2 linked regions of the Homo sapiens genome follow. The protein of the gene in region 1 purifies or fractionates together with the protein of each later gene. This does not show direct contact. Each region holds a gene or a part of one and is shown on either strand. Other genes may lie near its edges. The genes, in order: FBLN5 and ZNF627.

Region 1 (7,000 bases):
TTCCGAAGTACGCAAGGCATCACACGGTGAGGGGCCTGGGCTGCTAGCTGAGGTCTCTCTTCCTCTTCTTAGAAAGCCACCAGTTTCATTTCCAAGATAACCCATTAACCCATTAATCTATGAGTAGATTAATCCATTCATGAGAGTACAGCCCTCAGGATCCAATCACCTCTTAAAGGCCCCACCACTCAATATTGCAACACTGGGGATTAAGTTTCAATATGAGTTTTGGAGGGACATTCAAACTATAGCAAGGTTTTTGTAGATATGGTCAAAATCATGATGGTGGTATTTGAAAGGCTGATGTTTGAGTGACACTGGTTACTTTGATACACTTCAGCCAACATTTGGGGTACCTTACCGCGATGAGTTGGGACCACCCTAGGTGTTTGGGAGTGCTTCCTCCACGCCTGGTACCGAGTTCTGCTTAAATATGCACCGGACACAAGGCAGTTGGGGTGCCACTAATGCTCGCCCTTTCTGTGCCTTTCAGATATTGATGAATGCCGAACCATCCCCGAGGCCTGCCGAGGAGACATGATGTGTGTTAACCAAAATGGCGGGTATTTATGCATTCCCCGGACAAACCCTGTGTATCGAGGGCCCTACTCGAACCCCTACTCGACCCCCTACTCAGGTCCGTACCCAGCAGCTGCCCCACCACTCTCAGCTCCAAACTATCCCACGATCTCCAGGCCTCTTATATGCCGCTTTGGATACCAGATGGATGAAAGCAACCAATGTGTGGGTGAGTAGCCCGGCCTTTTGTTCCTCTCCGCTGTGCTTTGGTGAAGACATCGTCTGTATCTGGCATGCTCACCACAAATGGGTTGTTAGTTGCCATTCAATGCACCAGTGAAACAATGACTTACTCTCTGCATACTTATTTCACTCTTAGCAGCCTGTATCTCTGGGTTCCTGCCCAACTAGGGAGGTTATTTTGCTGTTTTGTTCACAGTTCTCCAGAAAACCAATTTTTTTCTTTATTTTACTTTCATCTATCTACCTACCTATCTGTATCTATCTATCTATAACTCATCTATATATTTAAAGACCAAGGTAATATTTTCTCAAATAACCAATACATCTGGTCAGACTTATTACAGTAAGTAAATCTCAGAGGAAGTTCTAGACAGGGCCAAAGCTCTGTCCTCAGCCCCCGCACCCTTGATTGGAACATGTGCTTCTGCAATACAAGAAGCCTTGAAGGGCACGGCCAACTGTTCTGGAAAGAAAATTAGGTTACTTGGGTTGGAACTAATGTGCTTGTGACCAAAAGGAGCCTCACTGATAGGAACTCACAGCAAGAATGGACCTCCGGGAAGAAGCAGGCACAAAGGAATTGGCAAGGGGTGTGACCAAGGTGCGCTGTGATCGCGCCTGTGAATAGTCACTGCGTTCCAGCCTGGGCAACATGGTGACACCTTGTCTCTTAAGAAAAAATATATATGAATTGAAGTTTTATTACTTTTTTCCTCTACCCCAAAAGTTTGAGAGACCATTGGTCTAGCAAGATTTTTGTTTGTCCCATTTTGTTTTTTGTTTTTCCCATTTTTGTTTGTCCCAAGATTTTGTTGTCCCATTTCAGGGCTCTGGAGTGTTGAGCTGTAACCCACTATTAGGGAAGCTGTGTTGGTTAATTTAAGGTGTCTTCTATATGCTTATATGAAGGAGTGTGCATTCTCTTTTTAATACAATAATTGCAGACAAGTGTCTTCAGAGCTATGAGGGAACACTGGGTATGCTTGAACCCAAACTTCTGCATTTTCGCTGGTCTCAAGGCGTGTGGTCTCTGTGTGTGTTGGCGTGGGGAGAGAGAAAGAGTGAGAAAGACAGAGCTGGTTAATGTTTACCTTAAACGTAGATGACTGTGCAAAGGGAATGAGCGCAGGGTCCGGTCAAGCCAACTTTGGTGGAGAAGATGGTAACATGCTTCCTTATAACCAGCATCAGGAGGAAAGACCTTTGTAACTGGAAGGGACTTTTTTTTACCAATCTTTAACTTCAACTTCTTCATTTTGTAGAAAGGAGAGTGTGGACTCCAACCAGTTAGGTAATTACAGAGGTAGGATGCCAGTCCAGCTCCCCTAACTTCTCCCCTGTCTACAATCTCCTAACTATAGGAAATGACCTCTCCTATCTGGTAGAAAAGAAATGATCCCAAAAGAAAATGCAGAGATAGAGGTGGGAGGTGCTGCTCTTCCAGGATGTCACGTGGGGGCTGGATAAGCCAAGTGATCAGCCCTTACGTGTCTTGAGGTGAGGAAGAGGGTGTAATGATTCTTTCGAGGCACTCTGCGGTTTTGGCAGGGGGCCTTGGGTGGTCGTGGTGCAGACAGGTCTAGCTGATGCCTCGGGCAAGCTCAGCGGCCTCCTTTGCAGAACGGCTGGGAACTGCTGCGGCTTTCTCCAAAGTGTCTCCCTCCTTCCCCTAAACCTCTTTCCAGGGTCCCAGTGCCCTTGACAATGAGGACATGGCTGGGAAACCTATTCCTCCCCTGGTCCCTCTGACGTCATGCCATTTATGGCTCTGAACCTGTCACACGGGAGATGCGGAACTTTCATAATGGCCCTTTTGTAAGGAGAATACAATCTAGGAGCCCTAGTGAGGACTGGCACCAGGCCCATCCATTTCCAAAAAGTTCAGCATTATGCATTCATAAGTCCTGAGTTCTTTCTAACTTCCCTTCACCCCACCCCATGGTTTCCTGGTTTTACACAGGGCTTTCAAATGGCCCTCGCTGAGGTCCCTCTGCGTATTGTAAAGAGCTGGCATTGTGGGGGTGGGGGGAAGTAAGAGAAGGGATGGGAAAGGGAGGCTCTTTCTACCTACCGCTCCTTCCAAGAACTGGGATGGAAGAGAGGTGGGCCTGGGAGCAGGTGGAAGGGAAGCAAGGCACCGTGGCGGAAGGTGGGAGGGAAGGAAACCAGATGGGGGGATCATTGAGAAAAGACAAGGAGGTGAGTGTGGAGGTGTCACTGCCCAGAGAATGTGGGTGTTTTCCAGAGCACAGCTCTGATCCTGTGGAGGAGGCATTGCATGAGCAGTGGGTAAGTCAGGGAGACTTGGGAAACATTTCTGAAACTTTAGTGTTCTAGGAGAGGAGGAAACATCTCCAAAGGTGTCTTGTCCTCTTCATCAAAATAAGAATAGCGATCAACAGTAACATCCGCAGCAGCAGTGGTAATAATATCAAACACTTGGATAGAACTCGTGTGCTAGGACCTTTACAATAATTAATGCGCTTGATCCTCATAACCAGCTACAAGGTAAAACTATTATCATTCCTATTGTACCCATGAGGAAACCGAAGCAGAGAAACTAAGAAACCTGTTCAAAGTCACACAGCAAGTGAGGGGCCGAGCCATGATTTGAACCATTCAGGCTTTGAATGAGAAAACAGGCTCAGTGAGGTATAGATTTGTTCGAGGGTGCTCAGAGTCAGTGCTGAAGTCAGGATTAAAAACAAGGTCCTTCTCTTGCTATTTTTGTTTTCTGAGACAGGGTCTGGCTGTTACCCAGGCTGTAGTGCAGTGGCACAATCACTGCAACCTCTGCCTCCTTGGCTCAAGCGATCCTCCCATTTCAGCCTCCCAAGTAGCTGGGACTACAGGCATGTGCCACCATGATCCTCGATCACTGCAACCTCTGCCTCCTGGGCTCAAGTGATCCTCTCATTTCAGCCTCCCAAGTAGCTGGGACTACAGGCATGTGCCACCATGCCTGGCTTATTTTTGTATTTTTTTGGTAGAGACAGGGTTTTGCCATGTTGCCCAGGCTGGTCTCAAATTCCTGGGCTCAAGCAATCCTCATGCCTCGGCCTCCCACAATGCTGGGATTATAGGTGTGAGCCGTGGCACCCAGCTATCTCTCTTTTTTTTTCATAATGAAACTTTTTGCTCTGTAAAATTTTGAACCTAGTCAAAAGTAGAAAGAGCATAGTAAGCACCTACCTACTTATCACCCAACTTCTGTAGTTATCAGCACGGGCACAATCTCCTTTCTTCTTTACACTCTACTCAGTGCATTAATTTAAAGCAAATCCCAGACATCATATAATTTCATTCTTAAAGACTTCAGAATTATCTCTAAGAGATAAAGAAATTCTTTACAAAAACAAATTTAAGGCCAGGCACGGTGGCTCATGCCTGTAATCCCAGCACTTTGGGAGGCCGAGGTGGGTGGATCACCTGAGGTCAGGAGTTCGAGACCAGCCTGGCCAACATGATGAAACCCCCTAAAAATACAAAAATTAGTTGGGTGTGGTGGTATGCACCTGTTTTCCCAGCTACTCGGGAGGCTGAGGCAGGAGAATTGCTTGAACCCAGGAGGTGGAGGTTGCAGTGAGCCGAGCTCGTGCCACTACACTCCAGCCTGGGCGACAGAGCAAGACTCTGCCTCAAAAAAATAAAAAATTAAAATAAAAAAACTTCCAAAAAGCACAATACCATTATCAAACCTACAGAAGTCAATAATAATCTCTTTTTATCATTAAATATCCAGGTAGTGTTCAAATCTCTCTGATTGTCTCATAAATGCCTTGCAATTTCATCACAAATGGCCAGAAGAATCCCTGCAGTCCCCGGAGTAGCATGGCTCTAACAAAATCCTGCTTTCTCAGCCACAAAACATTTCACTAACATTAGTTATTGGAGTCCCTACATTTGCCACTGAGCCAAGTTGGTTAGCAAAGCCAGAACTTGGAATATCCACCCAGAGGGATGACAAGCTGAGCCCCAAAGGGGCCATGCATACGAAGCCATCTCAGCAGCCTGTTGTCTGTTGGTTTGTTGAAATCAGATCCATGCAAATTCTGCAAATTGCATTGGTTGACAAGTCTCTTAAATGTCTTTTAGTCTTTACTGTTTCCCTGGCCACTTATTTGTTGAAGAGGCTGAGCTGCTTGTTCTGTAGAATTTCATACGTTTCGGAGGTGGCTGATTGCACTCTTGCCGGGGCGCGGGTTATCTTATTCCTTCGTCCCCTATATTTTCTTGTAAGCTGCTCATAGATCTAGGGACTTGATCCAATTCAGGTTAAATTTTTGGGCAGGCTATTTTGCAGGTAGCATCTTTGATCTTTTGCCCTCTTCATGCACTGATTTCTTCTCAAAGTGTAAGACAGTCTGCCTTGGGGAGGCAAATGAGCATCCCCTTTCACGGCGGTTTACTTTTTCTAGGGTTTGGACCCACTTTCAAGGAAGCACTTCATCCCTTGGTGCCGCATGAAGCCATGCTGTTTCCATGGGCTGGGCGGGGCCGGGCTCAGCACCTGGGTGGCCAGTCCCTCAGAGCTTCCTCCTCAATTTTTCTCTTTTTGGTTCCACTTTGGAGGTGACTAGACCCTGTCCTTTTGGAACAATGTTTGGCCTTAGGTTTGAGTCCACAGGCCCCTAGGTGTGCACTTGGGACATTTCTGCAGACACAGTGAACAGTGACCTAGGAATTATAGTCCACGAGCCAAGCAAGTTTTGTGTTGTTCAGAAAACTGGCATCTTGGCATGACAGTGATGGGACTCATGGCTCATTAGAGTGTGTCACCCAGATCCTGGACCCTTGGGAGATCTGGTGACCAGATTCTCAGGGGAGGGAGAGCCAGACAGACATGGTTAACGGGTAAGCAGGGAGGGGCTGCTGAAGGAGAGCCTCACCCAACAGCTCACAATCAAGACCCAGACAGAGGCCAAATCAAACACATACGTAGAGTTCTGAGCTGGCCACATAGACATCCCAGAGAAGGACGGTGTGGGGCTGAGGATGGTGTGGTGCTGAAGCCTCAGGGGGTGGGGTGAGCTGGTGCCGAGTGGCTGGGGCACCCAAGATGTGGACTCCCATTCAGGAACCTTCCTCTCATGGCACGCTGCCTCTAAGACCGGGTCCCTGAACGTGGCCGCCACTCAACTCTGTCAACTCATTCCCTTGGGGGCTCAACTTGTCATCTCTCTGGGTGGACATTCCAAGTTCTAGCTTTGCTAACCAGCTTGGCTCAGTGGCAAATGTAGAGACTCCATCAGTAACTCATGTTTGTGAAATATTTTGCGGCTGAGAAAGCAGCCTTTTACTAGAGCCCTGCTACTCCGGGGACTGCAGAAATTCCGGCCATTTGTGAAATTACAAGCAATATCTTGATTCTCTCTTCTAGTCCAGGATTTTTGTTATTGTTATTGATCTGAGAACAGGCAGAGAGCAACACATGGAATCCTTTTGGAAGGTGGGTGGTGTTGGTCTGAGGCTTTCTCTTGAGTTATTTTTCCTGAAAGCCAGCCAGTACTTCTTCAGTCAACCAATGTGTACAGAGTGCTTTGTTGGTGCCAGGCTCTGGCCTAGGCACCGAGGGGGATGTGGAGTTTTGCATGGCCACGGAGCTCTCTCTAGAGCTTGTGGACAAGGAAGGGAGATTAAACGCAACACAAGCACAAGCAGCTGAAATTCAAGACGGCCTCTGATGAGTTCCTGAGATGGTATAAAAAGAAGGCAGAGATAAGAAGCCTTCTGGGGTGGAGGGGACTGGAACTGGGAAGTCAGACAGGCTTTGAGTCTCACCTTGGTTTGGCCACTTCCTACCTGTGAGGACGGGGGTTGGTTTCCTCATCTGTAAAATGGATATAACAATGCCTGTCTCACAGATAACATGTGCAAACACCTTGCCCAGTGTTTACGCAGAGTATCCCATAGTAAACGTTAACTGGGAAAGATTTGTGGAGAAGGCTGCTAGGGTCTTGAGATGATAACCCAGGGGAAGAGTCACAGAGTCTGAAAATGCATCAAACGTCTAATTCTTCAAAACCTTTAAAATGACCTAAAACTGAGCCTAGTACACATTTACCTTGCAGGCCTCGAACGGCTTTCCCCAGCTAAGCCTGATGTGGCTTCACTCGGAATCTGCTTGGAAATGGCAGCAGAACCTGGGATTATTTAAATTGTGAGACAGAAAAGTGGGAAGTGGGAACAAATGTGGCATAAAGGCCGGGGCAAGTAGGAACCTCAGCCCCTAATGCTG
Region 2 (17,013 bases), on another chromosome or scaffold:
GCCTCCCGGGTTCACGCCATTCTCCTGCCTCAGCCTCCCAAGTAGCTGGGACTACAGGTGCCCGCCACCACGCCCGGCTAATTTTTTGTATTTTTAGTAGAGACGGGATTTCACCGTGTTAGCCAGGTTGCTCTCGATCTCCTGACCTCTTGATCCGCCCGCCTCGGCCTCCCAAAGTGCTGGGATTACAGGCGTGAGCCACCGCGCCCGGCCAGGAGTTGGTCTTTATATTACCTAACTCCCACCTCTTTCCTCAATGATTTGAACGTTTGATCATTTGAATGTTTGAATGTTTGATCCTCGTGATCAAACATTCCCGTTACTCTCTAGACCCCATCATGCTCCCCCAACCCCTCCCCACATCCTCTCAGATATCCACCAGCTCTAGCCCCCAGAGTAAAAACATCCATCGTCTCCACCATCAAGTGAAAGCAAATGGTGACTTCCTTGCCTCAGCCATTGCTGAGCCAGTTGGATGGCAAGGAGGAAAACCCCACCCAAGCCCCACCTAACCCCTGTCCTCCTTTTCATCCCAGCCGGTGCCCACTGATTCCATGGTTACCTGACTTATCCACTCCAGCTCCTGGTCCTTCTATCCTGGGTACCGCTGAACTGCTTGGGAGTAGCAGGCTGAGAAGTTCTGGTGCCCCTCCTGCAGCAAGGCTGTCAGCGGGCACGGGAGGATGCGGGGACCGGCTGGAGTAAGCCATAGCCAGGGCAGGAAGGAGCCCCACACAGATCTCCCTCAGCTGTGAACTCCACAACGACCCACCTCACAGTCAACAACACCAATGGACACTCGTTCCTCTAATCCCGTTATTACTAGGCACCCATTTCTCTCCACCCAAGGTTTTGTTCACCATCCTCAATTATTTATTATTTTTTTGAGATGGAGTCCAGGCTGAAGTGCAGTAACGCAATTTCGGCTCACTGTAGCCTCTGCCTCCCGGGTTCAAGCGATTCCCCTGTCTCAGTCTCCCAAGTAGCTGGGATTACAGGCCCCCGGCACCACGCCCAGCTACTTTTTGTATTTTTAGTAGAGACGGGGTTTCCCCATGTTTGCCAGGCTGGTCTCAAACTCTTGACTTCAGGTCATCTGCCTGCTTCGGCCTCCCAAAGTGCTGGGATTACAGACGTGAGCCACCACGCCCAGCCGGTACCCCCAATTATTTCAGTATTCATGATCCGCAGGAAGGAATACATATGTTTTGTTGTTGTTGTTGTTGTTTTGTTTTGTTTCTTTTGTATTTTTAGTAGAGATGGGATTTTGCCATGTTGGCCAGGCTGGTCTCAAACTCCTGACCTCAGGTGATCCTCCTGCCTCGGCCTCCCAAAGTGCTGGGATTACAGTTGTAAGCCACCATGCCAGGCCATGAATACATATGTTTTATTGAGTTCTTTTTTTTTTTTTTTTTTTTTTTTTGAGATAGGGTCTCACTCTGTTGCCCAGGCTAGACTGCAGTGGCACCATCTGCTCACTGTGACCTCGACCTCTCAAGCTCAAGCGATCCTCCTACCTCAGCCTCCCCAGTAGCTGGGACTATAGGCGTGCACCACCATACCTAGCTAATTTTTGTATTTTTTGTAGAGACAGGGTTTGGCCATGTTGCCCAGGCTTCTTCTTTTTCAATGAATGTATTTACAGCTATAAATTTTTCCTTCTAGCACTGCTTTCTCTGCATTCCATACATTTTGATATGTTGGATTTTCATATTTGTCTCAAGGTTGTTTTTATTTTTTATTTTATTTATTTTTATTTTTATTTTTTTGAGACAATTTCCCTCTTGTTGCCCAGTCTGGAATGTAATGGCATAGTCTTCGCTCACTGCAACCTCCGCCTCCTGGGTTCAAGCGATTCTCCTGCCTCAGCCTCCCGAGTAGCTGGGATTACAGGTGCCCGCCACCACACCGGGCTAATTTTTGTATCTTTTGTAGAGATGGGGTTTCACCATGTTGGCCACGCTGGTCTCAAACTCCTGACCTCAGGTATCAGCCTCCCAAAGTGCTGGGATTACAGGCATGAGCCAATGTGCCCCGCCTCAATAGCCTCAAGCAATCTTGTCACTTCAATCCCCTAAACTGGGACTACAGGGAGGCACCACTGTGTCTGGCTTGGATCATATTTTAAACATCTATTCTGCCTATCTCTGTTTTTTGATTGGAAAGTTTAACCCATTTCAATTTAAAGGAATTCCTGAGGTGGAAGGCCCAACTTCAGCCATTTTACCATTTGTGTTCTGTGTGTCTTGGAGCTTTTTTGTTCTTTATTTCTTCCATTACTGCCTTCTTTTCTGTTTACTTGACTTTTTGTAATGAGACTTTTTGATTCTCTTATTTCCTTTCGTGTATTTTCTATAGATATTTTCTTTATGGTTACTATGGGGATTACATTTGACATTCTAAGTTATAATAATATAACTTTATTTTATTTTATTTTGAGACAGAGCCTTATCTGTCACCCAGGCTGGAGTGCAGTGGTGTGATCATGGCTCACTGCAGCATCAACCTCCTGGGCTCAAGCAATCCTCTCACCTCAGCCTCCCGAGTATGTGGGACTATAGGTAAGGGCCACCATCCCTGGCTAATTTTTAAAAAAAATTTTTGTACAGACAAGGTCTTACTATGTTGCCTGAGCTCTTGAACTGCTGAGCTCGAGTGATCCTCTCGCCTCAGCCTCCCAAAGTGCTGGGATTACAGACATGGGCCACTGTTCCCAGCAAAGGTTTAAATGATACCTATTTAACTTCAATAGCATAGAAATATTCTATTCTATTAATTGAGAACTAGTCTTGCTATGTTGCCCAAGCTTAGATTTGAACTCCTGGGCTCAAGTAATCCTCCTGTTTCAGCCTCCCAAGTAGCTGAGACTACATGCATGTGCCATTATGCCTGGTTATGGTATAAACATACTCTATTTCCTTTTTTCTTTTCTTTTTTTTTTTTTTTTTTTTTGAGACGGAGTTTCGCTCTTGTTGCTCAGGCTGGAGTGCAGTGGTGTGATCTCGGCTCACCGCAACCTCTGCCTCCTGGGTTCAAGCGATTCTCCTGCCTCAGCCTCCTGAGTAGCTGGGATTACAGGTGTGCGCCATTACGCCTGGCTAATTTTGTATTTTTAGTAGAGACAGGGTTTCTCCATGTTGGTCAGGCTGGTCTCAAACTCCCGACCTCAGGCAATCCGCCTACCTCGGCCTCCCAAAGTGCTGGAATTACAGGCGTGAGCCACCACGCCTGGCCCAGATACTCTATTTTTATAGTTTCCTCTTCTTTTATGTTATTTTTTAAAATTTTTATTTACTTATTTATTTGAGGTAGGATCTCACTCTGTGACCTAATCTGGAGTGCAGTGGCGTGATCACGGCTTACTGTAGCCTGGACCTTCCGGGCTCAAACAATCCTTCCACCTCAGCCTCCCAAGTAGTTAGGACCATAGGTGCCCACCACCATGACTGGCTAATTTGTTAATTTTTCCATAGAGATAAGGTCTCACTATGTTGCCCAGGCTGGTCTTGAACTCCTGAGCTCAAGCGATCCTCTTGCCTGGACTCCCAAAGTGCTAGGATTACTGGCGTGAGCCACCGCCCCCGGCTCTTTTATGTTGTTAATGTCACAAATCACATCTTTATATATTGAGTGCCCAATATCATAGAAATATAATTATTTTTATTACTTTTCTTGAGAAAGCATCTCGCTCTTGTTGCCCAGGCTGGAGTGCAGTGGCGTGATCTCAGCTCACTGCAACCTCCACCTCCCGAGTTCGAGCGATTCTCCTGCCTCAGCCTCCCAAGTAGCTGGGATTACAGGCATGTACCACCATGCACAGCTAATTTTGTATTTTTAGTAGAGACAGGGTTTCTCCATGTTGGTCAGGCTGGTCCGGAACTCCCAACCTCAGGTGACCTGCCTGCCTCGGCCTCCCAAAGTGCTGGGATTACAGGCATGAGCCACCATCCCCGGCTTTCTTTTTTTCTTTTTGAGACAGAGTCTCGCTCTGTCACCCAGGCTGGAGTGCAGTGGTGCGATCTCAGCTCACTGCAACCTCCGTCTCCCAGGATCAAGCAATTCTCCTGCCTCAGCCTCCTGAGTAGCTGGGATTACAGGCATGCTCCACCACATGCGGCTAATTTTAGTATTTTTAGTAGAGATGGGGTTTCACCATATTGGCCAGGCTGGTCTTGAACTCCTGACCTCAAATGATCCACACACCTCGGCCTCCCAAAGTGCTGGGATTATAAGCATGAGGCACCGTGCCTGGCCGGTCTTTTCTTAATTCTTTTTTTCTGGGCCTCTGTGGTAACTGTAATTTCCTCTGTGGCTGCCTTTGAATGACCTAATTGTCAATGTCTGGGTCCCAAGAGAAAAATAAAATAACAAAAGTGCAAAAAGAAAATAAAATTTCGGCTGAGCGAGGTAGCTCTTGCCTATAATCCCAGCACTTTGAGGGGCTGAGGTGCGAAAATCGCTTGAGTTCAGGAGTCCTAGACCAGCCTGGGCAACATAGCGAGACATTGTCTCTACTAAACCTAAAAAAATATTATCCGCGTATGGTGGCACTTGCCTGTGGTCCCAGTTACTCGGGAGGCTGAGGTGGGGGGATTGCTTGATCCCAGGAGATCGATGCTGCAGTGAGCTATAATAGCACCACTGCACGCTATCCTGGGTGACAGAGCAAGACCTTGTCTTAAAAAAAAAAAAAAAAAAGAAAAAAATCAATACCTTCCAAATTCATTATGCGAAGGGGAAAATTAAGCACTTAAGTCCTAGAAACTGAGTCTTATAATACAGCTTCTCTGATGCATGACTGATGCTTCCTTACCTTTGTTTTGAGACTGTAGCCATCAGACTCCTTGTTCTTCATTCAAACCTATACTAAATGATGTAGGATATGTATACCCTTGCGACTGTTACCGCTTTACAATAGAATGTTAAGCAACCCCCATAGAGTGTAATCAACAGTAGTCAATCACATCTGTTTTTTTTTTTATTTTAATTTTTTTTTTTATTTTGAGACAGAGTCTTGCTCTGTCACCCAGGCTGGAGTGCAGTGGCATGATCTTGGCTCACTGCAACATCTACTTCCTGGATTCAAGCCATTCTCGTGCCTCAGCCTCCTGAGTAGCTGGGATTACAGGCATGTGTCACTATGCCCAGCTACTTTTTGTATTTTTAATAGAGACAGATTTTCACTATGTTGGCCAGGTTGGTCTTGAACCCCTGACGTCAGGTGATCCACCTACCTAGGTCTTCCAAAGTGTTGGGATTACAGGTGTGATCCACGGCACCCAGCCTCAAATCTTATGTCTGTATATTAACATCTGTATGGAAATGTATTTCTGTTCAGCACCTCTGTTTTTGCCTATATAGACAATTTTCACTTTTCCCCACACTGGGATCATTGATCACTATTCTTCGGTGTCAGCATGTCCCTGATGGCCACCCTTGTACTCTGTGTTTGAATAAACTCTTTTTTTTTTTTTTTTTTGAGACAAGGTCTCTGTCATCTAGGCTGGAGTGCAGTGGTGCCATCATAGCTTACTGCAACCTCGATTTCCTGAGATCAAGTGATCCTCCCGTCCTAGCCCCCCGAGTAGCTGGGACTACAGGTGCACCCTATCATGCCCAGCTTATTAAAAACAATATATTTTTTTGAGAGACAGGGTCTCACTATATGGTCCAGGCGGGTCTCAAACTCCTGTGCTCAAGCCGTCCTCCAGCCTTGACCTCCCAAAATGCTGGGATTATAGATATGAGCCACTGTGCCTGGCCTTGAATAAACTATTTTAACTGGATCTTGAGCCTTTCGATTATTTTAGGTTGACAAAGGGAAAAAAATAAAAGGCATCAGCTCTTTATATCCCCCACCACGCCTGGCTAATTTTTTGTAGTTTTAGTAGAGACGGGGCTTCACCGTGTTAGCCAGGATGGTCTCAATCTCCTGACCTCCTGATCCGCCTGCCTCGGCCTCCCAAAGTGCTGGGATTACAGGCATGAGTCACTGCACCCGGCCAATTTTTGTATTTTTTTGTAGAGATGGGGTGGGAGGGTTTACTATGTGGCCCAGACTGGTTTCAAACTGCTAGGCTCAAGCAATCCTCCCGTCTTGGCCTCCCAAAGTGCTAGGATTGGAGGCATGAGCCACTGTGCTCAGCCCCTGGCTAATTTTCATATTTTTTAAATGGGGTTAGGGGTTGGTCTCACTATGTTGCCCAGGCTGGTTTCAAACTCCCGGGCTCAACTGATCCTCCTGCCTTGACCTCCTAAACTGCTGGGATTACAGGCATGAGCCACCATGCCTGGCCATAGATTCTTTATGATTTTTATTCTGCCATCTTCCCTGAATCCTCCAACCTGCCTTTTTTTTTTTTTTCAGGCAAAGTCTTGCTCTGTCGCCCAGGCTGATGTGCAGTGGCACGATCTCAGCTCACTGCAACCTCCACCTCCCAGGTTCAATAATTTTTTGTATTTTTAGTAGAGACGGGGTTTCACTATATTGGCCAGGCTGGTCTCAAACTCCTGACCTCGTTATCCTCCTGCCTCAGCCTCCCAAAGTGCTGGGATTACAGGCATGAGCCACTGTGCCCAGCTTAACCTGCCTTTTTTTTTGAGACAGTTTCTCTCTTGTTGACCAGGCTAAAGTGCAATGGTGTGATCTTGGCTCACCGCAACCTCCACCTCCCCGATTCAAGCGATTCTCCTGCCTCAGCCTCCCGAGTAGCTGGGATTACAGGCATGTGCCACCAGGCCCGGCTAATTTTGTATTTTTATTTATTTATTTATTTTATTTTATTTATTTATTTATTTTTGAGACGGAATCTCGCTCTCTCTCCCAGTCTGGAGCGCAGTGGCGCCATCTCGGCTCACTACAAGTTCCGCCTCCCAGGTTCACGCCATTCTCCTGCCTCAGCCTCCCGAGTAGCTGGGACTACAGGCGCCCACTGCCACGCCCGGCTAATTTTTTGTATTTTTAGTAGAGATGGGGTTTCACCGTGTTAGCCAGGATGGTCTCGATCTCCAGACCTCGTGATCTGCCCGCCTCGGCCTCCCAAAGTGCTGGGATTACAGGCATGAGCCACGGCGCCTGGCCTAATTTTGTATTTTTAGTAGAGATGGGGTTTCTCCATGTTCCGAACTCCCGACCTCAGGTGATCCGCCTGCCTCGGCCTCCCAAAGTGCTAGATTACAGGCGTGCTCCATCGCACCCAGCCCAACCTGCCTTTTAATACTAATACATTACTTTGGGTCTCATCCCACATCACTTCATCAGAGAGCATCCTTCCTCTCACCTCAGTTATTTCTACTTTTTTTTCCACGTATAGATGTTTTTTCAGGGACCGGAGGGTATGGGAGGAAGCCTTGGCACGCCTCATCCCAAATGCCCGTTTCCCGGAACATCAGGCCCTTCCTCCTCTTCCTGTCCTCCCTGGCCTAGCCTGGGCTCCCTCCCGTTCTGAGGCAAGGCGATTGCTCCATGTCACAGTGAGTGTGGAGTTCCCTGCACATACTGGTGACCTTGTGTCCGGAAGGAATTAGAAGGAAGAGCTCATGGAGTGCCAGAAGAAGACAGTGCCTACTCTGGCAAGCTAGAAGCAAGCTCTGCATTAAATGCAAATATTGGCCGGGCACGGTGGCTCACATTTGTAATCCCAGCACCTGGGGAGGCCTAGGCAGGAGGATCACTTGAGCCCAGGAATTCACGACCAGCCTGGTCAACATAGTGAGACCCCATCTAACCCACCCCACCCCCGTCACACACACAGCACCAACAACAAAATAAAATTAGCAGAGTGTGGTGGGGCGTGACTTTGGTCCCAGCTACTAGGGAGGCTGAGGCAGGAGGATCGTTTGAGCCCGGGAGATTGGGGCTGGAGTGAGCCGAGATCATGCCACTGCAGTCCAGCCTGGGTGACAGAGCAAGACCCTGAAAGAAAAAAAAGAAAGGAGGGAGGGAGGGAGGATGGAAGGAAGGAAGGAAGGAAGGAAGGAAGGAAGGAAGGAAGGAAGGAAACCAAAACAAGGCCACGCGTGGTGGCTCACGCCTGTAATCCCAGCACTTTGGGAGGCTGAGGTGGGCGTATCACTTGAGGTCAGGAGTTAGAGACCAGCCTCGGTAACATGGCGAAACCCCGTCTCTACGAAAAATACAAAAATTAGCCAGGCGTGGTGGCGGGTGCCTGTAATTCAGCTACTCGGGAGGCTGAGGCACGAGAATCGCTTGAACCCGGGAGGCAGAGATTGCAGTGAGCTGAGATCGCGCCACTGCACTCCAGCCTGGGCGACAAAAGCGAAACTCCGTCTCAAAAAAAAAAAAAAAAAAAAACCAAAACAAACCCTCAAATATCCCTCGGGCTGGGTGCAGGGAGGAAACTCGGCCTGAGAGGCGCAGTGGCTAGAACCAGTCAACACTGCTACGCACAGCCACGTTTCCATGGCTTCCTACGTCACTCAGGCCTTAGGGGGCGGGGTATGTCACCCTATCCAATCAGGGGCGCTGGGGCGGGGCCCTGCCAACTGTCCATTCAGATGGGCCCGGGAGAGGAGGGCAGGGCCTGCGCCTCCCTACGGAGCCTTTGTTTCTGGCGACCGTCCCCACCCGGGCTCGCGTCTCCGTTTCTCCGAGAGGCCCAAGGTGTCTCCGCCGCAGCCTCTGTCGCGCCGTGACCTGTACAGGTCGCGGGAGTCGTAGGGAGGACGCCGGGACACCTGGAAGCCGAGAAATGGTGCGTGTGAGGGGTCAGGCGTCCCCAGACCTGGGGGAGGGGCTGGTTGGAACCGGCCGGAACCGGCTGTGGAGGGACCTAGGCCTCCCTGCGGCGACTCCGGGGTCTGGGACCCGAGTTCCCTCGGCCGCAAGGTGGGGCTGGGCCAGGAGCTGGGACCCCGGTCGTCCTGTCCCGTCCCTGCGCGACGCCTGCGGCCCCGCAGCCCCGCGTCTCCCCACATGGTGCGGGGGCCGCGGGAGGGTCATGGGGGTATCCCTCCTCGGATGTGGTTCGTGTTGCAGGAGCTGCGGTCTGTGGCCGCCCCCCACAGTCCCGCCTTTCTCCCGTTAAAAATTTAGAGTTTATTTGAGCAAACAGCGGCTCATCGATGGAGAAGCTCCCGGTCGTGGTTTGTGGCTTGGGGATCCGTTGGAGGGAATGGAAGGAAAGGCTGTAAGGTGCAGGAGGAAGCGAACCAAATTCAGTACTTGGTTGGTGACAGTTATGCAGTCGCCTTATTTGCTCTATCTAGGTGGACATTTTCTGCTTATGTAGTCAGAGGTGGATTGGTGGTTGTGGTTTATTAACCCTAAATTTTATTTCCTTATAAACTGGTAATTTATAAGAATTTCATTTGAGGCTGGAGCGCGGTGGCTCACGCCTGTAATCGCAGCGCTTTTGGAGGCCAAGACAGGAGGATCGCTTGGGCCCAGGAGTTGAAGATCAGCCTCGCAATATAGCGAGACCCCATCTCTGTTAATTTTTTTTAAATGAACATATTCAGACTGAGACCAAAAAACTACTACAAATTTTTAAAATATAAAATCAAATAAAAGAATTTCATTCGACTTAGATTTCTGTTTCCTTGGGTAGGAAACCAGGACACCATAGCCACAGCCCTCTAATTGTCTCCAAATTAATTATTTTAACACTCCCCAGGGGGACAGGGTCCCAAATCCTTGACCTTGTTCCCCTAGCCTGACTCCTCTGGCGCTTGCAAATAATTCTTGATACCACTTCTTTCACCATATTCCCAAAAGGTAACTCCAGTCACGACATTATCAACTCTTTGTCCTTTATTGCACATTTCAAACTAATTAATTTGTATTATTTTTTCAAGGAGCAATCGATTGGTCTTTTAAAAATATTTGCTTTCTGTTTCTGAACATTTCACAGGAGAGGAAAGCAGAGAATACATGTATGAGACCCTGCTGTGAAAAAACCTTTGTGCCTCTTCTCCTTTTCTCTCTCCTAGGCACAGGGATGTTCTCAGAATGTCTTTTGGTTGGCCTGGTGCCATGGCTCATGTCTGTAATCCCAACACTTTGGGAGGCCAAGGCGGGAGGATCACCTGAGGCCAGGAGTTTGAGACCAGCCTGAGCAACATAGTGAGACCCGGACCCTAAAATAAAAAAAACAAAAAACAGTGTCTTTGGGTTGGGGTTCCCCTTTGGAAACTTTAAACTGTGATATGTCTTCAGAGCATCCTCCTTTCCTGGTCCTGGGCTTCAGGGCTGTTTGGGCTGACACAGGATGCCCACAGCAGCCAGATCTGTTGAAGGGTCTGGTATCAGCCTGCTCCCACTGGACAGCCTGAAGTACGGGGTGGGGCCTCTTAGTGGAGGAGCTGGGTGTCCTGGGGTCGGAGGAATCTCTTGATATCCCCTCCCTCTCAAAGCTCACCCCTGGGACACTCAGCTTTTCTTCCCCTAATTCCAGATCCCATTCCTTGGGGGACACATTGGTGTCCAGCCAAATGGATGATGGTATTGAGGGGAAAAACAGATATGATTCTTGCCCTCTGGATTCTTTTAGACTGGTGAAGTGAGAAAACTTATCCCAAGGACAGGAAAACCCATCCCACTGAGGTGATGCAAGAACTTGAAAAGCAAAATGTACTTCAGGCAGATGGAGGCAAAATGCAGTGTCTCTTGGAAGGGTGGTCACTGAGCCCTTCAGTGAGCAGGTTAGGGGGTGGACGATATCCCAGGTGATAGAATGACCTGACTTAGGCCGGGCGCGGTGGCTCACACCTGTAATCCCAGCACTTTGGGAAGCTGAGGTGGGCGGATCACTTGAGGCCATGAGTTCGAGACCAGCCCGGCCAACATGGCGAAACCCTGTCTCTACTAAAAAATACAAAAATTAGCTGGGTGTGGTGGCAGGTGCCTCTAATCTCAGCTACTGGGGAGGCTGAGGCATGAGAATCGCTTTAACGTGGGAGGCAAAGGTTGCAGTGAACCGAGATCACACCACTGCACCCCAGCCTGGGTGACAGAGCGAGACTCTGTCTCAAAAAAAAAGATGTGAAACTTGAGTCAGACGTACCTCTGTTCCAGGTTAGCGCAGCCCCTTCCTGGGTTTGTCCCCTGCAAAAGATTTGTTCACTTATTGCAGTTTCAGTTTTTTTCTTTTTTAAGTAACTATAAATGTATTTCATCAGTAGACCTTGAAATATAAGACAGTTTTGCAAAGAGGCAAGAAGGAAGTGGATTTCAGAAAACATTAAATATCTAGTCTTATGTTTGTTAAAAATTATTACTTATGGCTGGGCGCGATGGCTCACGCATGTAATCCCAGCACTTTGGGAGGCTGAGGCAGGCAGATCACGAGGTCAGGAGATCGAGACCATCCTGGCTAACACAGTGAAACCCTGTCTCTACTAAAAACACAAAAAATTAGCTGGGCATGGTGGCGGGTGCCTGTAGTGCCAGCTACTTGGGAGGCTGAGGCAGGAGAATGGCATGAACCTGGGAGGCGGAGCTTGCAGTGATCCATGATTGCGCCACTGCACTGCAGCCTGGGCAACAGAGCAAGACTCCATCTCAAAAAAAAAATTATTATTTTTTTCTTTCCCAAAGCAAGTGTAGTAAGTTTCTCAAGTATGTTGTTTTTTTTTGTGGGGGTGGGGTGTGGTGATTTAAAATGGAATTCCAGGGCTTAGTGTTGGGAATACTAAGGAAAAGAGAGAGAGAAAACTCTCTTCTATCATGACTGCAGAAAATGAATACATTTCCACAAGTAAGTGTAGCAAATAAATTGGTGAATTACAGAGATTCACCAAAACATCAATTCCTCTGCTTTGCAGGGTGGCAAACTTGTGACAGTGGATAACTGTTCTCTTCCTGTTATCTAGACATCAGAGTTTAATGCGAAGTCCTAGTAGGACAGGACTTGGTAACTCCTAGAAGTGTTCCAATATGATTTAGTACATGATTTGTTACCATAGAAAGAATAAATAACATGTTTATTGTCTGAAGAGGATGGATACTTTTACTTTTCCTGTTAAGGTATGAAATATAAGTGCCTTACAATTTCCTTCCTTGCTATAAACAGTGAATTTGAGTGATTTTACTGGAATCTTCAAACCCTGGGTATTTTCTCATTGAAAATTAAATGCATAACCTTGACTGGGAAACAGAGACAGCAGACTAGTGACTTGAAACTAAGACCAATCTTGAGCCTTCAAAGAGAGGACATTACAGGCCCAGTGGTTCTTGCTGAGGAGCCTCCCCTGCAGTGTCCCAGCTGCTCACAACTGACTTTGGGTGGAGCCCTTTATAGTGAGAGAAGCTCAGAGCCCTGGAAAGCTGGGGATTCATAGGCAGAGGTGGTTGAGGTGATGCCTTTCTGAGAATGTACTTGCTATTATCTTGGGTCTGTTTGTAGACGTTTCTAATGAAACAAATCTGGATTTAGGTAAGGAGTGATTTATTTTATTTTTATTTATTTATTTTTTTTGTGTGTGACAGGGTCTCACTCTGTCTCCTAGGCTGGAGTGCAGTGGTGCGATCATAGCTCACTGTAGCCTTGATCTCCTGGGCTCAAGGAATTCTCTCACATCAGCCTCCCAAGTACCTAGGACTAAAGGCATGTGCCATGATGCCTGGCTTATATTTTTAAAAAAGTTTTTTTAAGAGAGACAGGACGTTGTTATGTTGCCCAGACTGGTCTCTAACTCCTGGCCTCGAGCAATCCTCCCACCGTAGCCTCCCCAAATTCCAGGATTATGGGGGTGGGGCGGGGAGCACCACCACACCAGACAGGAATGACTATTCTAAAGGATAATCGAAAGGGGAGAAGGCACCAAGTATAAAATCTTCAAGCATCTCAGGCTGGGCGTGGTGGCTCACGTCTGTAATCCATGCACTTTGGGAGGCCGAGGTGGGTGGATCACAATGTTAGGAGTTTGAGACCAGCCTGACCAACATAGTGAAACCCCATCTCTACTAAAAATACAAAAATTAGCCGGGCATGGTGGTGCGTGCCTGTAATCCCAACTACTCGGGAGGCTGAGGCAGGAGAATCGCTTGAACTCAGGAGGCAGAGGTTGCAGTGAGCCGAGATCGCGCCACTGCACTCCAGCCTGGGCGACAGAGTGAGACTCTGTCTCAAAAAAAAAAAAAAAAAAAAAAAAATCTGCAAGCATCTCAGAGTTTATGCAGAAAAGGATTTTCTTTTGTAGGGAGGAGCAAATGATGAGAAAGAAGGTGGGAGGTGGAAGGCAGGATGCAGGGTGCAAAATCCCACCTAGATCCTGAAGGCAGTCTCTTCTTAGGAGGGTCATCAGAGGGGTTGTATATAGGCTCAGGCTGGGGGTGGGTCAAAGTTCAGGGGCTGGAGGAAGAAGAGAAACTTAACCAAAGTTTTGTTAACAGGTACTTTGTTCTGACTGATCACTGAAGACAGAGCTGTTCAGCTAATCAATTGTGAGGAAAATAAAGGGAATTTCTAGTCTGTGTATGGCTTTGTCATAGGTAAAAAAGCAGTGTCATCTAAGTCATAATGAGAAGAGTGTTTCTTTGCGTAACCTGCTCCTGCAGAATACAAAAGACGGGGGAGTTTCTTTAACCATAGCTATTTCCAGGATTACATACCTGCCCAATCTTCTGCCGCCATTTTCCCTTACATCCATCCCTTCCATTTCGCCATTTCTGATTTATATGCAGTTGCTGAGAAGTATGGGTGATCCCTGGGGCTTGTGACTGGCATCTGCAGTGGGGCACTGTTATGGTAATGAGCCCTGAACTTGTGGGGTCCCCGTTAACTCTGGGTAGTGTCAGAATTGATTTGAATGCTTAATTGGTGTTGGAGAATTGGAGATTTGGTTGTGTTCAGCAAACACCACACATTTGGTGTCAGAAATGGTATATGAAAAAAGACACTAGAGATCAGAACCTTCACCTGGCTCTGGGTAAGTGTTCGCTGGTGAGAATTGAGACCCTGGAGGAGGGAGCATTTCCACACTGTGAGGAGAGGAGAGTGGGTTGTGTGAAACACCTGTGGACTCACTACCCAGGTTCATAAATGGGCATTGGGCATTTCTGGTATGTCCTGATCTTGTCTCCCGTCTGTACCCACAGGTGACCAGGTCCTCATTTTTAAAAGGTGGTTCTTCATAGTTTTACCATCTATTTATCATTAGGCTGAATTTTGCTTGGCTCTTCCTCTTTTGAATTTTTAGTAAGTTATTACCATTAATATTATGCCAAAAAGAGTTTTTTTTTGGTTTCTTTGCCTGTTTGTTTCACGCATGCTGGTTTCTGCATTTAGTTTGGGGGTTAGGATTTCAGCAAATGAAAGTTTGGGCAGGGGATGGTGGTGGAATACAAACATTCAGTCTGTTAACAATCCTAACTGTATTTTGTACGACATCTTGGCTATTCTTAGCCTTTTTTTTTTTTTTTTTTGAGATGGAGTCTCACTGTGTAGCCCAGGCTGGAGTGCAGTGGCGCTCTTGGCTCACCGCAACCTCTGCCTCCGGGCTCAAGTGATTCTCCCACCTCAGTCTCCCAACAAGCTAGGACTACAGGTGCACAGTACCACACCAGCTAATTTTTGTATTTTTTTTTTTTGTGGAGGCGGGGTTTTGCCATGCTGTCTAAGCTGGTCTTGAACTCCTGGGCTCAAGCAGTCCACCCAGCTATGCCTCCCAAAGTGTTGGGATTATAGGTGTGAGCCACTACGCCCGGCCTTATTTTTGTCTGTTTTTTGTGGAAGTGATATCATCCTATATGTTATATTGTATGCCATCTGTCTATTTCACATAGCTGTGAATCTTCCATGAAATGGTATTTTATTCACTATTTTACTTAATAAACTTTATTTTTTAGACCGGTTGTAGTTTGACAGAAAAATTGAACAGATAATACTTAGAGTTTCCTTATTCTCCTCCACAGGTGATTGTTTTCCCCTACTTTTCTTTTTTTTTAAGAGACGAAGTCTTGCTCTGTCACCCAGGCTTGAGTGCAGTGGTGCGATCACTGCTCACTGCAGGCTAGACCTCCAGGGCTCAAGTGATCCTGCCGCCTCAGCCTCCCAAGTAGCTGGGACCACAGGTGTGCACCACCACATCTGGCTAATTTTTTTTTTTTTTGGTAGATGGGGGTCTCACTATGTTGTCCAGGCTGATCTCTAACTCCTGGCTCAAGTGATTCTCCCATCCTGGCCTCCCAAAGTACGTAAATATGATATCATATATATCATATAATTGATGAACCAATATATCATATATGATGATGATCAGAATTGGTGAGCCAATATGTTACTAACTAAAGTTTACACTTCATCAAAATTGGTAATTTTTGTTCTTCAAAGGACACCAAGAACTTGAAAAGATAATTCACCAAGTGGAAGAACGACTTGCAAATCCTGTGTCTGGTGGGGCATCTTATCCAGAAGCAGCCTGAGTCTCAGTCCCCTCCATCACACTCCATCAGGGTGGGGGCTGAATTGGCAGCCAGGACTCCCAGGTATCCTGTCCCATCACTGTAGGAGGCAGTCTACCTCCTGGACCTCTCTCTGGGCAGTTGTGCACCTGCAATCCTGGATCTCACCCAGATCATGGGGTGACAACAGGGAGTGGCCATCCAGAGAGAAATCTGAGCCTGGTGTTTTGGGTTTGTGGGTGGGAGGTACTCTCAGGACACCCTCCCCCTCCATGGATTCAGACTTGGGTGGGCCCAGCAGAATGGCATGTGTGGTTCCCAGCTCCTTCATCCCCAGTGGGAGGGAGCCTGTCATCCCCTATGCATTTCAGATAAATGAACCAGGGTCTCAAGTTTACAGCCTTGTTCCCTGTTAAAGAGAGATTGCACTGGAAACTTGTTAAGAATGTCAAGGAAAAGTTTATTAAGCACAATTGCAGTGAGTCATGACAGCTGTAATAGGGGAGGGAGATTGAATTCAGCCTTGAATGCAGCAGGAATATTATTGGATTTATAGCCAATGTACAAGGTGAGGGAGAGAATGGAACTTGGTTGGGTCTCATAGGTGGGAGAAAAAGAACTTGATTGGATATTAAGGTAGGAGGAGTCTCTATAAACTACCTTAGATGGATTCTTGCTGAAACTGACTTCTGCAGGCCAGTGCCAAGCCCTAGTCAAAAAGAGGGCTCTGAGGAGCTTGACTCAAGTTTGGTGAAGGAAGGAGTACTTGAGACCTCTTCAGCCTAGTTTTTCTTTCTTTCTTTTTTTTTTTTTTTTTTTTTGAGATGGAGTCTTGCTCTGTCACCCAGGCTGGAGTGCAGTGGTGCGATCATGGCTCACTGCAACCTCTGCCTCCCAGGTTCAAGCAATTCTCTGCCTCAGCCTCCCAAGTAGCTGGGGTTACAGGTGCCCACCACCAGGCCTGACTAATTTTTTTTTGTATTTTTAGTAGAGACAAGGTTTCACCATCTTGGCCAGGGTGGTCTTGAACTCCTGACCTCATGAGCCACCGTGCCCAGCCTCTTCAGCCTAGTTTTTCCCAGGGCTCTGTATTAGTCTGTTTTCATGCTGCTAATAAAGACATACCCAAGACTGGGTAATTTATAAAGGAAAGAGATTTCATTGACAGGTCAGTATGGCTGGGGAGGCCTCAGGAAACTTACAAGTATGGTGGAAGGGAAGCAAACATGTCCTTCTTCACATGGCAGCAGCAAGGAGAAGTGCAGACTAAAGGTGGGGGAAAGGTGGGGGAAGCCCATTATAAAACCAGATCTCATGAGAACTCACTATTATGAGAACAACATGGAGGTAACCACCCCAATGATTAAATTATCTCCCACTTGCTCTCTCCCATGACATTCAGGGATTATGGGAACTACAAGAGGAGATTTGGGTGGGGACACAGCCAAACCATATCATTCCACCCCCAGCCCCTCCCAAATCTCATATCCTCACATTTTAAAACAATCATGCCCTCCCAACAGTCCCCCAAAGTCTTAAATCATTCCAGCATTAACTCAAAAGTACAAGTCCAAACTCATCTGAGACAAGGCAAGTCCCTTCTGCCTATGAGCCTGTAAAATCAAAAACAAGTTAGCTACTTCCTAGAT

What was found.
Region 2: the proteins of FBLN5 (region 1) and ZNF627 purify together in Homo sapiens (co-immunoprecipitation; 2 studies listed by BioGRID and IntAct, with this or other methods). This does not show direct contact.

What each region holds. Positions count from the first base shown.
Region 1 is NC_000014.9:91,930,695-91,937,694, reverse strand, and holds part of FBLN5 (fibulin-5 isoform 1 precursor), read left to right. Parts: intron 1-493; coding exon 494-748; intron 749-7,000. UniProt on the Homo sapiens protein: Essential for elastic fiber formation, is involved in the assembly of continuous elastin (ELN) polymer and promotes the interaction of microfibrils and ELN. Stabilizes and organizes elastic fibers in the skin, lung and vasculature.
Region 2 is NC_000019.10:11,588,917-11,605,929, forward strand, and holds the start of ZNF627 (zinc finger protein 627), read left to right. Parts: upstream 1-8,566; 5' UTR 8,567-8,711; coding exon 8,712-8,714; intron 8,715-15,293; exon of another isoform or gene 15,294-15,448; intron 15,449-17,013. UniProt on the Homo sapiens protein: May be involved in transcriptional regulation.